Linked DNA regions of Homo sapiens. The protein of the gene in region 1 purifies or fractionates together with the protein of each later gene. This does not show direct contact. Each region holds a gene or a part of one and is shown in the gene's direction. Other genes may lie near its edges.

The links.
Region 2: the proteins of UBE2O (region 1) and ZNF707 purify together in Homo sapiens (affinity purification with mass spectrometry; 4 studies listed by BioGRID and IntAct, with this or other methods). This does not show direct contact.
Region 3: the proteins of UBE2O (region 1) and LUC7L2 purify together in Homo sapiens (affinity purification with mass spectrometry; 5 studies listed by BioGRID and IntAct, with this or other methods). This does not show direct contact.
Region 4: the proteins of UBE2O (region 1) and LUC7L purify together in Homo sapiens (affinity purification with mass spectrometry; 4 studies listed by BioGRID and IntAct, with this or other methods). This does not show direct contact.

What each region holds. Positions count from the first base shown.
Region 1 is NC_000017.11:76,387,605-76,391,554, reverse strand, and holds the end of UBE2O ((E3-independent) E2 ubiquitin-conjugating enzyme), read left to right. Parts: coding exon 1-612; 3' UTR 613-2,099; downstream 2,100-3,950. UniProt on the Homo sapiens protein: E2/E3 hybrid ubiquitin-protein ligase that displays both E2 and E3 ligase activities and mediates monoubiquitination of target proteins. Negatively regulates TRAF6-mediated NF-kappa-B activation independently of its E2 activity.
Region 2 is NC_000008.11:143,690,979-143,694,558, forward strand, and holds part of ZNF707 (zinc finger protein 707), read left to right. Parts: exon of another isoform or gene 1-94; coding exon 95-221; exon of another isoform or gene 222-254; intron 255-618; exon of another isoform or gene 619-621; coding exon 622-735; intron 736-1,266; exon of another isoform or gene 1,267-1,315; coding exon of another isoform or gene 1,316-1,352; intron 1,353-2,692; coding exon 2,693-3,552; 3' UTR 3,553-3,580. UniProt on the Homo sapiens protein: May be involved in transcriptional regulation.
Region 3 is NC_000007.14:139,408,394-139,411,973, forward strand, and holds part of LUC7L2 (putative RNA-binding protein Luc7-like 2), read left to right. Parts: intron 1-1,169; coding exon 1,170-1,261; intron 1,262-3,580. Other genes in the region: FMC1-LUC7L2 readthrough protein, read left to right, coding at 1,170-1,261. UniProt on the Homo sapiens protein: May bind to RNA via its Arg/Ser-rich domain.
Region 4 is NC_000016.10:226,570-230,767, reverse strand, and holds the start of LUC7L (putative RNA-binding protein Luc7-like 1), read left to right. Parts: upstream 1-1,318; 5' UTR 1,319-1,428; coding exon 1,429-1,489; intron 1,490-2,365; exon of another isoform or gene 2,366-3,431; coding exon 3,432-3,526; intron 3,527-4,198. UniProt on the Homo sapiens protein: May bind to RNA via its Arg/Ser-rich domain.

The sequences.
Region 1 (3,950 bases):
CTGCAGGAAGGCTATGAAAACAGTCGCTGTTACAATGAGATGGCGCTGATCCGCGTGGTGCAGTCCATGACCCAGCTGGTGCGGCGGCCCCCCGAGGTCTTTGAGCAGGAGATCAGGCAACACTTTAGCACTGGTGGCTGGCGGCTGGTGAACCGTATCGAGTCCTGGCTGGAAACCCATGCCCTGCTGGAGAAGGCCCAGGCACTGCCCAACGGGGTGCCCAAGGCCAGCAGCTCGCCAGAGCCCCCAGCTGTAGCCGAGCTGTCAGACTCCGGCCAACAAGAACCTGAGGATGGAGGGCCAGCCCCAGGAGAGGCCTCCCAGGGCTCAGACTCAGAGGGCGGTGCCCAGGGCCTGGCCTCAGCTAGCAGGGACCACACAGACCAGACTTCGGAGACCGCACCAGACGCATCGGTGCCACCCAGTGTGAAACCAAAGAAGCGGAGAAAGAGCTACCGGAGCTTCTTACCTGAGAAGAGTGGCTACCCTGACATCGGCTTCCCCCTCTTCCCACTTTCCAAGGGTTTCATCAAGAGCATCCGGGGTGTCCTGACGCAGTTCCGGGCTGCCCTGCTAGAGGCAGGCATGCCGGAGTGCACAGAGGACAAGTAGCTGCCAGGCACAGAGGAAAGAGCATCACCGTGGGAGAGGCCAGCCGCCGCCTGCTCACTCCCCCCCGGAATCACCCCTCTTCCCATGCCCCTCTGTCCCCACTGCAAACCCACTGCCCTCTTCTCCCCAAGGTGAGTTTGATGCTGAAGTGCAAGAAGTGTGTTGAGATGCTGCCGTTTCTATTTTGAAGCGAGCTTTCAACAGGCGGGTCCCCTGTGGCAAAGAAAATCGGAACCCTGTTGCCGATTTTCCATTTGTCACCCCAGCAGAATGTCCGGCACTTGCTCCCTTGCTGCCCCTTCTCAGGTCAGAGGCGGGTGTTCCAGGGCCTGCCGCGGGGCTCTCTGGGCCGGTTCCCTGCAGACCCGCAGGAGAGCACATGTGCCTTGCATGAAGTGTGGGTTGCGCCAACAATTCCCCTGGTCCCTTTCAACCTGTTTAGTTCAACTCAAGCCTCCCTGTGTCCCAGACCCTCCTGCTGCCACCACCACCCAGGTCCTCCCTAGTCCTCCAGCGTCAACACTATCCCTTGGGAGTTGTAGCTGCTGTCACTGACTCCCGGCTATACATGGCCTGTCGACCACGTTATAGCCCTCAGGCCTGTTGAACTTGCTCTCTAAGAGAGGTTGGGACCAGGCTAGGTTCCGGGTGACGCCCAGGAGAGGTGGTGGCCTTCACACATGCACATGGAGTTGAGGACCAGGGAGCTGCAGGGAAAGCAACAGCTATAGGTGCCTTGCTCTTCTGTCGGAGGCTGCTGGGGGCAAGAGCAGCTGCACAAGGCCAGGGCAAGTGCTAGGGCCCCTCCCCCATCACATGGTCACACTGGGACAGGCGTGCAGCTCACTGAACTCCAAGCGAGCCAGCCCTCTCTTGGACTAGAAGGCCTACTGTCAGCCCTTCGCTTACAAACTGCAGGCTCAATCCGAAGGGGACGGCCGGCGGGGGCTCTCCTAGTGCCCAGAGACAGGCCCAGAGGTTTACAAGTTTTCTAAGCTTTTGATAATGTGAAGCTCCAGGCCGAGAGGATGCTGTTGAGCACATTGCAGCTATGTAATTTTTGGTGTATGTATGTAATATTTAAGGTTGGAAAAAAAACTCAAAAGCAAAGATATTAACTCTTATTAGAAAAAAAGACAAAAAAAAAGCCAAAGCATGATGCGTCTTGTCAGCCTTAAGTGGGCTCCACACCTGTGCTGTGCTGTGACCGCCCAGCCAGCAGAGCTGCGGGAGGATGGAGCCGGACCACACACCGTGGCATTTGGAACCGAGTCGGTATCTTGTTTGAGAAACACCCGGAGTGACTGGTGGGGCTGTGCTTCCCAGTGCATTGTACATGTGGAGATGTGAATGCCTACTGCTTACGATATCTGTATAAAGTGCTGTGTGATTAAACTTTTTTTTACTTGCATTTTTTTTTTTTTTTTTTTTTGTGTTGGCTCATTAGCAAGACAAGGTGACACCATTAAACCTCCCTCTGCCATTCATCTGGGCTCCGTTGCCTTTGTGTCCCTCACACACACCCTTCCTGGGGAAGGAAAGACCTTGTTTGTTGCCAGGGAAGGCATGTGGCAGTGGGTCCTGGCTTTCCTGGCCAGGTGGGGGCCACTGTGAACAGCACCCCCACCCGCCCACACTGCCCTCTGCCTGCCAGACCTGCTTGCATGCCTTTTGTACTTCTTGTCCTGGAGCAGTCCTCTGGCCTCCTCCTGGCCGGTGGTGTGCCCCTCAGGAGCCAGCTTAGAGCAGCCTCCCAGCAGCTGTAGTCTCCAGAGACCTACAACTGACCAGTTCAGCTCCTTCCAGGTTCTGGGAGAGCCGACGTCATAGCACCTGGCGGTGGACAGGTGCCACAACTCCTGGACGCTAAGCCAAAATGGTTGCCCAGTTTAGACTTGGATGGATCCTTCCCTGCCACATTCTTTCCACTCCTGCCTGGCACTCCTCCACAGGGACAGGTAGGGAAAGGAGACAGCTGAGGGAGGCTGGGAGAACCCTAGAACCCTAGACCATTGTGGTGGATGACAGACTCCTTTTAAAAAGGTAAGATACCAGGTGTGGTGGCTCATGACTGTAATCCCAGCACTTTGGGAGGCAGAGGCGGGCAGATGACTTGAGGTCAGGGGTTTGGGATCAGCCTGGCCAACATGGTGAAACCCCATCTCTACTAAAACTACAAAAATTAGCTGGGCATGGTGGCATGCACCTGTAATCCCAGCTACTCAGGAGGCTGAGCACAAGAATCACTTGAACCCGGGAGGTAGAGGTTGCAGTGAGCCAAAAAAAAAAAAAAAAAAAAAAAGCAAGATATTGCCATTTTTTACTTCTGAGGTCTCCTGCTCCTTGCCAATTTTTTTGGGGGGGGGCGGGGGCGGTGGCCAGTGGTTTTATTGTTTTTGTTTTTGAGACATTCTCACTCTGTCTCACCCAGCCAGGCTGGGGTGCAATGGCGCGATCTCGGCTCACTGCAGCCTCAACCTCCCGGGCTCAAGCGATTCTCCTGCCTCAGCCTCCCAAGTAGCTGGGACTACAGGTGTCCGCCACCACACCCTGCTAATGTTTGCACATTTTGTAGAGATGAGATTTTACCATGTTGCCCAGGCTGGTCTCAAACTTCTGGGCTCAAGTGATCCACCCACCTCAGCCTCCCAAAGTGCTGGGATTACAGGTGTGAGCCACCACGCCTGGCCCATCAGTTTTCTAATGCCCTTAACTCAGATATTTCCCCTTTCCTGCTAAATCCACATGGGGCTCTGATGAGATTTGCTGGGACTAGCTGCTTGTGTGGCCCTGGCTGAGACATGCCAGCTCCGAGCTGCATCCTGTGTGTGGTCAGGCAGCTGGCTGAGCTCTGAGGCTGCTTCAGGTTGGAGGTGCTATAATTATCAGGGTGGTAGAGGCCCCCCCACCATTAGGCTGAACCAGCTCTGGTCCTGAGTCCCCCACCAGAATGACTATGCCTGGGGCCAGTAAAATCCATTGCCCATCCCAGGGGGCACCATTGGCCATCATTACCATTAAATTCTATAGTCCCGGCCAGAACGAGAACCCATTCTCTCCCCAGTCACCAGGACAGGACGAGCAGGCTGGGAATGTCACTTTATTTGGATTTGGTTCGTGGGGTGGGGGTCTCAGAACAAACTAGAAGGCCTTACATAGGCAGCTGGGCCCAGCCAGCTGGGCTCCTGACCCAGGACTTCATTCTGGCCTGTCCCCCCAAAGCATAGCCTCCACCTTCTCACCCTTCTCCAGAGGAGTCTCCTCCACCCCCACAGGAGCTGTGGACAGGCCCTGCAGCCCTAGGGAAGGAGGAAGGGTCCTGCAAGTAGACACTAAGG
Region 2 (3,580 bases), on another chromosome or scaffold:
CAGGGCCACTCCCATTCCCCCTTCCCACCCAGACCTGTGGGCTGAGCCTTCTTTTTCTTGGGAATGGCCTCTTCGGGAGCTGTGTGTGTTGCAGGAGCCAGTGACCTTCAGGGACGTGGCCATCTACTTCTCAAGGGAGGAGTGGGCGTGTCTGGAACCCAGCCAGAGGGCCCTCTACCGGGACGTGATGCTGGACAACTTCAGCAGTGTGGCTGCTCTGGGTGAGCACGGGCTGAGCGCAGCGTGAGCACAGGGTGAGTGCTGGGAGAGCTCTGCCGCTGCCTCTGGGCCCAGCTCGTCCAGGACAGTAGTGGGGCCTCCCAGCTGAGGGGGCTCAGGAGCTAGAAGTTATTGGCTTATGTAGACAGAGGGGCCCACTCAGCGTTTCTCTCGGGCTCCCTGGAGGCAGCCTCATCTTCCTTCCTCTGACCTTGCCAGGGCCTTCCGTGGGCCTTGGTGTCCAGGCCCCTCCCTTCCTGTCATCTCTGCTTTGGGGTGGCTTCTCCAGGGCCTCCCGAGGGCTGGCCTGGCGTCTTAGGCTGATGCACAACTGCTCTGAGCCTCGACCCTCACTTTGTCCTCAGTACAAGTAAAACAGAAACTTTTCTCTCCTTTGAGAAGGATTTTGCAGCCCCAGACCAGACCTCGTCTCTCGCCTGGAACAGTGGGAGGAGCCGTGGGTTGAAGACCGGGAGAGACCTGAGTTCCAGGCAGTGCAGAGGGGACCCCGGCCAGGTGAGTGCTGGGCTGTCTGGGCTCGGCGGGCCCCGTCCCTGTGGCCCACAGCTCCTGGGTAGTGCTCAGCACGCTGCAGTGACCAAGGGTGTGTCCTTCCCATGGGAGAGCAGACACACAGCTGCTCTCTAAATTAGACAGGCATTAGAGACGTAGGGGCAGCCACGCTCCTGCCCTGATGGACACTGGCCGGGGGTGGGGCTCGAAAGGCATAGTGCTGCAGGATGACATACAGCTGCAGCTCGGAGGGGCCTGAGGCTGGAGTGACACTTGAAGCCTGCACCTAGCCACCCAGGTGCTGTCCGGCGGAGGCCATTGGTGTGGGTGTCTGACCTCCCTGTGATGGCCATGTGGGGTCCCAGGCCTGGTACTGACTGCACGTGAGGGTCTCCAGGTATGTGGCTCTGGGTAGGAGTTTGCTCCACGTCCTTGTTTGCAAAACTGGGACAGTGGCCATGCTTCCCTCCATTAGGTGAGGGTTGCTCTTGGGGCAGTTGTCAGCAGGGTTTTGCTTTTTACTTACATTTTCAGAGTGGGATGGAGCAGCTATGTGAACACGAGCCCTGGGAGGTCCCCGGGTATGTGGAGTCCCCGACTGTGGAGTGTCAGGTTCCTAGGTGTGTGGAGCCCCCGACTGTGGAGTGTCAGGTCCCTGGGTGTGTGGAGCCCCTGACTCTGGAGTGTCAGGTCCCCGGGTGTGTGGAGCCCCCGGCTGGGGAGGTGTCGGATCCCCGGGTGTGTGGAGCCCCCGGCTGGGGAGGTGTCGGATCCCCGGGTGTGTGGAGCCCCCGGCTGGGGAGGTGTCGGATCCCCGGGTGTGTGGAGCCCCCGGCTGGGGAGGTGTTGCATCCCCGGGTGTGTGGAGCCCCCGGCTGGGGAGGTGTCGGATCCCCGGGTGTGTGGAGCCCCCGGCTGGGGAGGTGTCGGATCCCCGGGTGTGTGGAGCCCCCGGCTGGGGAGGTGTCGCATCCCCGGGTGTGTGGAGCCCCCGGCTGGGGAGGTGTCGGATCCCCGGGTGTGTGGAGCCCCCGGCTGGGGAGGTGTCGCATCCCCGGGTGTGTGGAGCCCCCGGCTGGGGAGGTGTCGCATCCCCGGGTGTGTGGAGCCCCCGGCTGGGGAGGTGTCGCATCCCCGGGTGTGTGGAGCCCCCGGCTGGGGAGGTGTCGCATCCCCGGGTGTGTGGAGCCCCCGGCTGAAGGGAGCCATGGCTCTGAGGCTGAGTGGTTGAGAATCAGGTGGAGCTACCCGTCTTCTAGACGACATCCTAGCACCACCTCCACCCGCATGAGTGGGGCCTGCTGGCGTGGACAGGGTGAAAGGACATTCTCTTGGCCCAGTTGCTTCTGTTGGTTGGCAGGCATGTGTCGGCTCTCCCTCACGTCAGCAGTGCCGGGTGGCCTGCGTACCACCGGGGCTGGGGAAGCATCTGAGCTCATCTTGGCTTCCGCTGTTGATACCTGTGGCTCATCTGTGTTTCTTTGAACGAGTTTTCCTGATCACTCGTAACCATGTGGAATGAGCTGAGTCAATGGAAGCCAGTCCACGCACACAGCAGGAGGGTCCTCTGGGCTTTTTTTTTTTTTTTGAGACGGAGTCTCGCTCTGTCGCCCAGGCTGGACTGCGGACTGCAGTGGCGCAATCTCGGCTCACTGCAAGCTCCGCTTCCCGGGTTCACGCCATTCTCCTGCCTCAGCCTCCCGAGTAGCTGGGACCACAGGCGCCCGCCACTGCGCCCGGCTAATTTTTTGTATTTTTTTTTTTTTAGTAGAGACGGGGTTTCACCTTGTTAGCCAGGATGGTCTCGATCTCCTGACCTCATGATCCACCCGCCTCGGCCTCCCAAAGTGCTGGGATTACAGGCGTGAGCCACCGCGCCCGGCCTCCTCTGGGCTTTGCTGGAGGCACTGCCTGGCTGTGGGCCACTGGCTCTGTGTAAGGGTGTCTGTTCCTTCCACAGGGGCAAGGAAGTCTGCAGACCCCAAGAGACCTTGTGATCATCCAGCTTGGGCTCACAAGAAAACCCACGTGCGGCGAGAAAGAGCCAGGGAAGGAAGCAGCTTTAGGAAGGGCTTCAGGCTGGACACGGATGACGGGCAGCTTCCCAGAGCTGCTCCAGAAAGGACAGACGCCAAGCCCACGGCTTTCCCGTGTCAGGTGCTCACGCAGCGTTGTGGGCGGCGGCCGGGCCGCAGAGAGCGCCGGAAGCAGCGCGCAGTAGAGCTGTCATTCATCTGCGGCACGTGCGGGAAGGCGCTCAGCTGCCACAGCCGGCTGCTCGCTCACCAGACGGTGCACACGGGAACCAAGGCCTTCGAGTGCCCCGAGTGCGGCCAGACCTTCCGGTGGGCTTCAAACCTGCAGCGCCACCAGAAGAACCACACGCGCGAGAAGCCCTTCTGCTGCGAGGCCTGCGGGCAGGCGTTCAGCCTGAAGGACCGCCTGGCTCAGCACCGCAAGGTCCACACCGAGCACAGGCCCTACTCGTGTGGCGACTGTGGGAAAGCCTTCAAGCAGAAGTCCAACCTTCTCAGACACCAGCTGGTGCACACCGGGGAGCGGCCGTTCTACTGCGCGGACTGCGGCAAAGCCTTCCGGACCAAGGAGAACCTCAGCCACCACCAGAGGGTCCACAGCGGGGAGAAGCCCTACACCTGTGCCGAGTGCGGCAAGTCCTTCCGGTGGCCCAAGGGCTTCAGCATCCACCGGAGGCTGCACCTGACGAAGAGGTTCTACGAGTGCGGCCACTGTGGGAAAGGCTTCCGTCACCTGGGGTTCTTCACGCGGCATCAGAGGACTCACAGGCACGGGGAGGTGTAGGGGCGCCCGAAGAGTGGGGTGCTGCGCC
Region 3 (3,580 bases), on another chromosome or scaffold:
TAATTGGAAGTGACCTAAATATTTCCATATTAGAAATCACAGGGCATGGGAACTTGTGATTTATAATGGTTGATGTTTTTTTAAAAAATACAAAATAATACTAGAAAACATTTAGAGGAGGAAAATCTTGTAGAAGTGACTTGGAAATGTCATTAAGAAATCATGAAAGGCTAGGCGCAGTGGCTCACGCCTGTAATCCTAGCACTTTGGGAGGCCAAGGCGGGCGGATCACAAGGTCAGGAGTTCGAGACCAGTCTGGCCAATATGGTGAAATCCTGTCTCTACTAAAAATATAAAAATTAGCTGGGTGTGGTGGCATGTGCCTGTAGTCCCAGCTACTCTGGAGACTGAGGCAGGAGAATCACTTGAACCCGGGAGGTGGAGGTTGCAGTGAGCTGAGATTGTGCCACTGCACTCCAACCTGGGCGACAGAGCGAGACTCTGTCTCAAAAAAAAAAAAAAAAAGTCATGGAGCTGGGTATGGTGGCTTATGCCTGTAATCCCAGCACTTTGGGATGCCAAGGTGGCCAGATCACTTGAGGCCAGGAGTTGGAGACCAGCCTGGGCAACATGGTGAAACCCCATCTCCACTAAAAAATATTAATAGAAAAATTAGCTGGGTGTGGTGATGCACGCCTGTAATCCCAGCTCCTCAGGTGGCTGAGGCTGGCAGGTGGAGGTTGCAGTGAGCCGAGATGGTGCTACTGCACTCCAGTCTGGGCAACAGAGTAAGACTGTCTCTAAAAAAAAAATAATAAGATCATAGGCCAGTCTCAGTGGCTCGCACCTGTTAATTCCAACACTTTGGGAGGCTGAGGTGGGAGGATCACTGGAGCCCAGGAGTTGTAGACCCATCTGGGCAACATAGCGAGATTCTGTCTCTATTTTAAAATAATTTGTTTTCACTTAAAAAAAAAAACAAAAAAAAAAACCAAGTAGAAATCATGGAGAAAGGTGAAATTTTACACATTTTCCACAAAATGGGGAAAGATTATGGAAAGAAGACTTGTAGGCCTAATGATTATTTCTGGCAGTACTTCAAATTGAATTATTAAACAGATTTTGACAGCAGTTGTACTGTATTAGAAACCAGATAATATAAAGTTTAGGATAAAGCTGTTTAAGAATGGACTCAGTAAATATTCTCCTCATTTATTACTGTTTTTAAGAGAGTCGTAGCTGAGAAGCAGGAGAAAAGAAACCAGGAACGGCTGAAACGAAGAGAAGAGAGAGAGAGAGAAGAAAGGGAGAAGCTGAGGAGGTATGGAGTAATGGGCCAAGTAATTGAAGTTGAATCTCTGTGGTTCTAAAAAGAGATATAATTGATTTTAAATTTTAGATGGTGATAAATCTGTTATGGGACGTGGGAAACTTCTGCTTACTTTAAAAAATATTACTGTGCGAATTATATAAATGTTTAATTATACAAGTATCGTAACTCTTGGCCATTTAACGGAATGTGATTTCCTTTAAAATGTGTGGAAGAGTGAATAAAGAATGCTTCGTATCTTGTAAGATTTATAACAAAATCCAGCCGGGCATGGTGGCTCACGCCTGTAATTCCAGCACTTTGGGAGGCCGAGGCGGGTGGATCACGAGGTCAGGAGATCGAGACCATCCTGGCTAACACGGTGAAACCCCGACTCTACTAAAAATACAAAAAATTAGCTGGGCGAGGTGGCGGGCGCCTGTAGTCCCAGCTGCGCGGGAGGCTGAGGCAGGAGAATGGCGTGAACCTGGGGGGGCAGAGCCTGCAGTGAGCTGAGATCGGGCCACTGCACTCCAGCCTGGGCGACAGCGAGACTCTGTCTCAAAAAAAAAAAAAGATTTATAACAAAATCCTTTTCTAGCCCTTTGATTTTTCATATTGGGCTAGATTTGCACCAGGTTAGCATAGAATTATTATTTTTTTTTTATGATGTATTTTGTTAACAAAAGGTTTAAGGGTGGTTGTTTCATTGAAGGGTTTTTTTTACATTGAACTTTGGTTAGTTCCTCAATTCTAGGAGCCATAAACTATTAAAAAGTCTAAAAATATCTAAATGTATATAATTCCTCTTACATTGGTATTCATTAATTGATAAAATCTTAGAATTCTAGTATTTGGAATGTCTAAACATTCTTCTGAGTCACTTTTACCATTGGCAGCTAAAATCACATAGCATCATGGTGGCAACATTTTTTTGTAACTCATCTTTTTAACTTCAGCAGCTTTAGGATGGACAGTTATATCACAAATGATTTGCCTGTAGTCCTAATTTATAGTGTTCCTTGAATCATACTACATTTAAATGTCTTAAATTTAAATACCTTCTCTTTAGAGTTAGCAGATGTGCTTAAGCTAATTAAAACCCTTTGTAGTATTAGGTTATGCTCACTTCCTTCGATCTTTGAGCATATTATATACTCAGTATATTTCAAGAAGTTTAAACAGACTTCGTTTGTGTCACATGGCTTATAACCAGGTAATCTTTTTGCACCATAAAGACAGTGAAACAAAACTACATGTCTATATGGTCCCTTTTTAGGAGAAGTGATGTCAGTCCTCTATTGAGAGAGAGAGATTTCTTCATTTACTGTAAAGTTTACCTCAGAGCTTTTATCTACTTGTTCTTTTGTGTATAGTAAGTCCTTATGGGAATATTGCCCAGTATTCTAATATATAAGTGGAATTTTCAGTAATATTGGGAATCTCATTTTAAGATTCAATTGAGGTGACAGTAACATGGAACAGAATTTCTTTGCAGGACTACATTTTCACATTTGTAGATGATGAAAAAGTATATCACATCTTACTCCTTTGTTTGCCAAATGGCAAGTTTCTTTTGACAGTGATTATATAATGCAAATTTCAGAAACATTAAAAAAAAGTCGTTGAATCTGTGAGCTTAAAGAAATATGGAAGTATGGAAGATGAGGAAATTAGAAACTAGTATAAAATTATATAAGATGGGATAAAAGAAAAAAATCATAATCATTTACTGGGTGCTTATTGTATGCCAGACACTGTAGTAAGGAATTTATCCATATTCATCTAATCTTTATAAACCCCACCCCCACTCCACCCCAGTAAAATTTATATTAGTATCCCTCTTTTGCTAGTGACAGAGTAAGCTGAGAGAGGATATGTAACTTACTTAGGTCACACAGACAGTGAATGGTAGAACCAGAAATAAAACTCAAATCTGGCTGATCTCAAAGTCATGCTTTCAACAATGCTATATATCATCCAAAAAAAAATAATAATCCCTGTGGTGTCCTACTAGCCATAATATTCACTTTACATTTCATTGAGCGTTACCTGTGTGCTAGGAAATGTGACAAGTGCCTTAAGTAGAGTATCTCATTTCATTTGAAGAAACACATTGTAAGATTGAACTAGGTGTTCTAGAGATTATAGTATGAGGTTGTAGCTCCAAGAGTATGTAGATCTCAGACCATAGAAATTTCACTCTTTTCCCAGAAGGGAAAAAAGAAATGACAGATATAAAAGAATTTTTTCCAAGCTGGTAAGTGGTTTCTGGAAAATTAGCAAGTTGTGATATGTAGGTTGAGCATCCCAAATCCAAAAAATGAAATC
Region 4 (4,198 bases), on another chromosome or scaffold:
AAAATAAATAAAATACGGCAGGGCGCGGTGGCTCACGCCTGTAATCTCAGCACTTTGGGAGGCCGAGGCAGGCAGATCACAAGGTCAGAAGTTCAAGACCAGCCTGGCCAATACGGTACAACACCGTGTCTACCGAAAATACAAAAATCAGCTGGGCATGGTGGCTGGCTACTTGAGGTCAAGACTTTGAGACCAGCCTGGCCAGCATGGTGAAACCCCGTCTCTACTTAACATTCAAAAATTAGCCGGAGGGGGTGGCGGGCGCCTGAAATTCCAGCTACTGGGGAGACTGAGGCAGGAGAATCGCTTCAACCCGGGAGGCGGAGCTTACAGTGAGCCGAGATCGCGCCACAGCATTCCAGCCTGGGTGACAGAGCAAGACTCCGTCTCAAAAAAAAAATAAACAAATAAAAAATAAAGACCGGGCGTGGTGGCTCATGCCTGTAATCCCAGCACTTTGGGAGGTTGAGGCAGGAGAATCGCTTGAACCCAGGAGGCGGAGGTTGCGGAGAGCCAAGATCGCGCCATTGCACTCTAGCCTGGGCGAAACTCCGTCTCAAAAATAAATAAATAAATAATAGAGGTTTAATATAATAGAAGTATATGCCAGACTATGCACACATAAGTGCATGCTATAATTCTATTATCACATAAAATAACTGCTTACATATGCCTTTTCTTTAGTCCCTGGGACAGTAGACCATGAGCTCACAAAAGGACGACCACGAGGTTGTAATCATAGAACCTAATATTAATGCCATGACTGATGGCCAAACGTGGTGGTTCACACCAGTAATCCCAATACTTTGCCGGGCTGAGGCGGGAGGATAAGGAGCCGGGGAGGTCGAGGCTGCAGTGAGCGGTAATCGCGCCACTGCATTCCAGCCTGGGCGACGGAGCAAGACCCTCGCTCTAAATAAATAAATAAATAAATAAATAAAATTCCATGCTTTATTTAACTTTCACAAAAATCATATGAGGGGCACCTTTAGAACCCTCATTTCACAGATTTAAAAAAACGAGCGTCGGGGAGCTAAATAATATGCTCACGGTTTCATGGCTAGCTTAGAAAAAGCACGGATTCATCTTGTTTTTGATTGACTGTATTTCATTTTATTGTAGTTTACCCTCCGTAGAGACTCGTTTGAGGTCCTGGGGGTCTAGAGTAAAATCAGGGTTGGGATTTTGGTTCCGCCGTTGGACAACTTGCGACCACTCAGAGCCTCAGCCTCCCTAAGCACCCACCCCAGAAACTACATTTCCCAGCAGGGCGTGCGCCGGCGCCGTCGTACTTCCTCCCGGCGTCCCCCGCGGCGGGAAAGAGCCGAGTGGGCTCGAGGCCGACGCGACCATCGTTTGTCGACGCCGCTGCCACCGCCTGCCTGAGAGAAGTCGTCGCGGCCGACCCCGTCGCCTCCGCCGGCTACCATGTCCGCCCAGGCGCAGATGCGGGCCCTGCTGGACCAGCTCATGGGCACGGCTCGGGACGGTGAGTCAGAGCGGCCAACCAGGCGAGGGTCTGGGGTGGGAGTGAGGCGAGGCCGCCGGGCGGCCTGAGGCGGGGGCCGCGATCGTCTGCGCCTGCGCCTGCGCGGGGCATCGCTCCTCCTCCCCCGCGCTCCGACCGCAGGCGCCGGGCCTTTGTCTAAGCCGGTGCGTCTCTGAGGCGGCCGTGGGTCCAGGTCGGGCTCCTCTCTCGGAGTCTGCGCCATGGATGGGGCTTCAGCCTCCTTCCTATGTACCGTCCTGCTACTTCCTCCCCGGCGGGCGCCGCGGCTCCGTGCCCCTCCGCGAACTGTGGAGTCGGCGGAGGGCTGGAATCAGCGTGGGCTCCAGGTCGCTGGCAGCCGGGTGGCAGAACTCTTCCGAGGCTCCTTGGGAAGAAGCTACACCCGAGGGAGCCGGATGGGCCTCGAAAACCTGGCCCGCTCTGGTTCTGTACCATTGCAAGGGGAACCGTAAACTGAGCTTTTCTAACGTGGGTTTCTGCCAAGTACTTTTCCAGCTGCCCCCTTCCCCCCAGCACACAGGAGAGCCTCTGTGTAGCCAGCGCTTGACAGTCGTTAGGTAGGTTGTACTGTGTAGGGAGGAGCTCAAGATCATGATGGTTGTCACAGGAGAAAGCGGTTGCATCTTTGCAAAACTATATACCTGCTGTGGTTTGTGTTTTCTTTTCTGCTGAGTAATGAAGTTGTAAGTTCACACTGGCACATTCTCAGGGCTGTGCAGATTATTTGCACTTTATTTCATAGGTGAATAAGTGCTTTTTAGCTTTCTTTGTATATTGAGTTGCTTTTGAATTGCTTCCCATATTTTTATTTCATACAAACTGAACAATTGTGGCCCCTCTATTTTATTTATAAAGGTTCAGTGTATCTTTGCCTGCCTACATCAATCTGCAAGGGAGTTGCAGAAAGCCTCATGTTCATCGAGCCGTGAGTCACAACCAATTTCTAAGCTGTTATAACAAAAAAGTGTTTGCTTTTTTTCACAAGTAACTTTAAAAGTGTAGTTTAGAAAGAAAACATTTTCAATAAAAAGACACTACATTAATCCTGGATGCTTGCAAATCCTAAAATATATTCCTCCTCTAGCGTTGCACAGCTCTGTGTTGTATACACAGACTAGCTTTAAAATTTGTCACATACCACTTTACCTTTACTTTTATGTATCATTCCCCCGACTTCCTTACTGCAGGTGTGGGCAAGAAAACTTTTCCTTTAACACTTTTCAACAGCGGGCATAAAATTCTGCAGCTGAGGTCTTGAAGAATGCAGATGGGTACAGTATGTGTTGGAGCTCACAGTGTGTATTGACTAACCTAGTTCCTTTTTTGCTTTTTTTGGTATTGTCTTGTTAAAAGTGACTCCCAGGTAGCAACTCTCTTTTTTAAGGGTGGGAACGAAAGGGACGTAGGAAGAATAGATCTAGATTATTTAACAGTCTTCGATAGAGTTTGAAAGCTTTCTTCTTCATTCAATTTTGGGCAAAATACTGCCTCTGCATTTGTTCATAACAAAAAGATTAGATTAATAAGTAGCTTTTGTTGGTGGAAATTACCAGCTCTATAAGTCACCCTTGGTGGTTCATGGACCTCTGATTAGCTTGGGTTTTGCAGTCTCATTGCCACATGTATATGTGGAGCCAATGGCCTTTTGGTGCTCAGCTGTTTACGTCTGACTCCTTGACTTCTTTGGTACAGTGATGGAGTCAGATCTCATTAAGTGTGATTCTCCATGATATAACTAGCCTCAAAAAAATGTGTATTCCACTCCAGTTGTAAATATCTTTAGATCAGCTTTTCATTGCATTTGATGGGGAGAACACAGAAATGATAGTCTGCAAATCATCCAGGTGAATTGTTATACTAGTTATTTTTTGGTGGTTAATGTGATAATATTGTCTTATTTAAAACCACAAATGAATTTCAGGAGACGAAACCAGACAGAGGGTCAAGTTTACAGATGACCGTGTCTGCAAGAGTCACCTTCTGGACTGCTGCCCCCATGACATCCTGGCTGGGACGGTAGGTGCATTTTGGGGGACCTCATGGAACACTCTGACATGAGTGCTGTATAGGCAGTGACGGTTTTTCTATGTTGAATTTTGTTTTAACTTAAGTCTCTTTTTCTCTAAGTGGCTTAATTATGGCAGGTGTTCCTCCACTCGTATGTATGTTTGCATGCATGCATGCGATGGAGTGTCACTCTGTGTTGCCCAGGCTGAAGTGCAGTGGTGTGATCACAGCTCACTGCAGCCTTGAACTCCTGGGCTCCAGCAATCCTACCACCTCAGCCTCTTGAGCAGCTGGTACTACAGGCATGAGCCACTGCTCCTTTCTCAATCCTCCACTCTTCAACAGGCAGAAATCCCTGATGCCCTTAAAATGATAGATTCTATTCATTTGGTAGGATTTTATATTATGGAACAAATTTCACTGTTGTAAAATTCTGTCTGTAAAGTTACCAGATTTTTTGTAAAGTCATTTATACTGAGATATTCACAACTAAATAGGGCAAGTATTCTAATTTGGCTGTAGCAAAAAATATGCTTTAGGTCAGCCTGAAGTTCTTTGAAGATTCTGCGTGGGTTTGTTTGACCTCAAGTTGGTTGTGTGGAAAACTTTTGATCTAGCAAGGTACATTTTCTTCCCGCAATTTTTTGGTTTTTAAAAATCAGTTGAGGATACATTGATTTT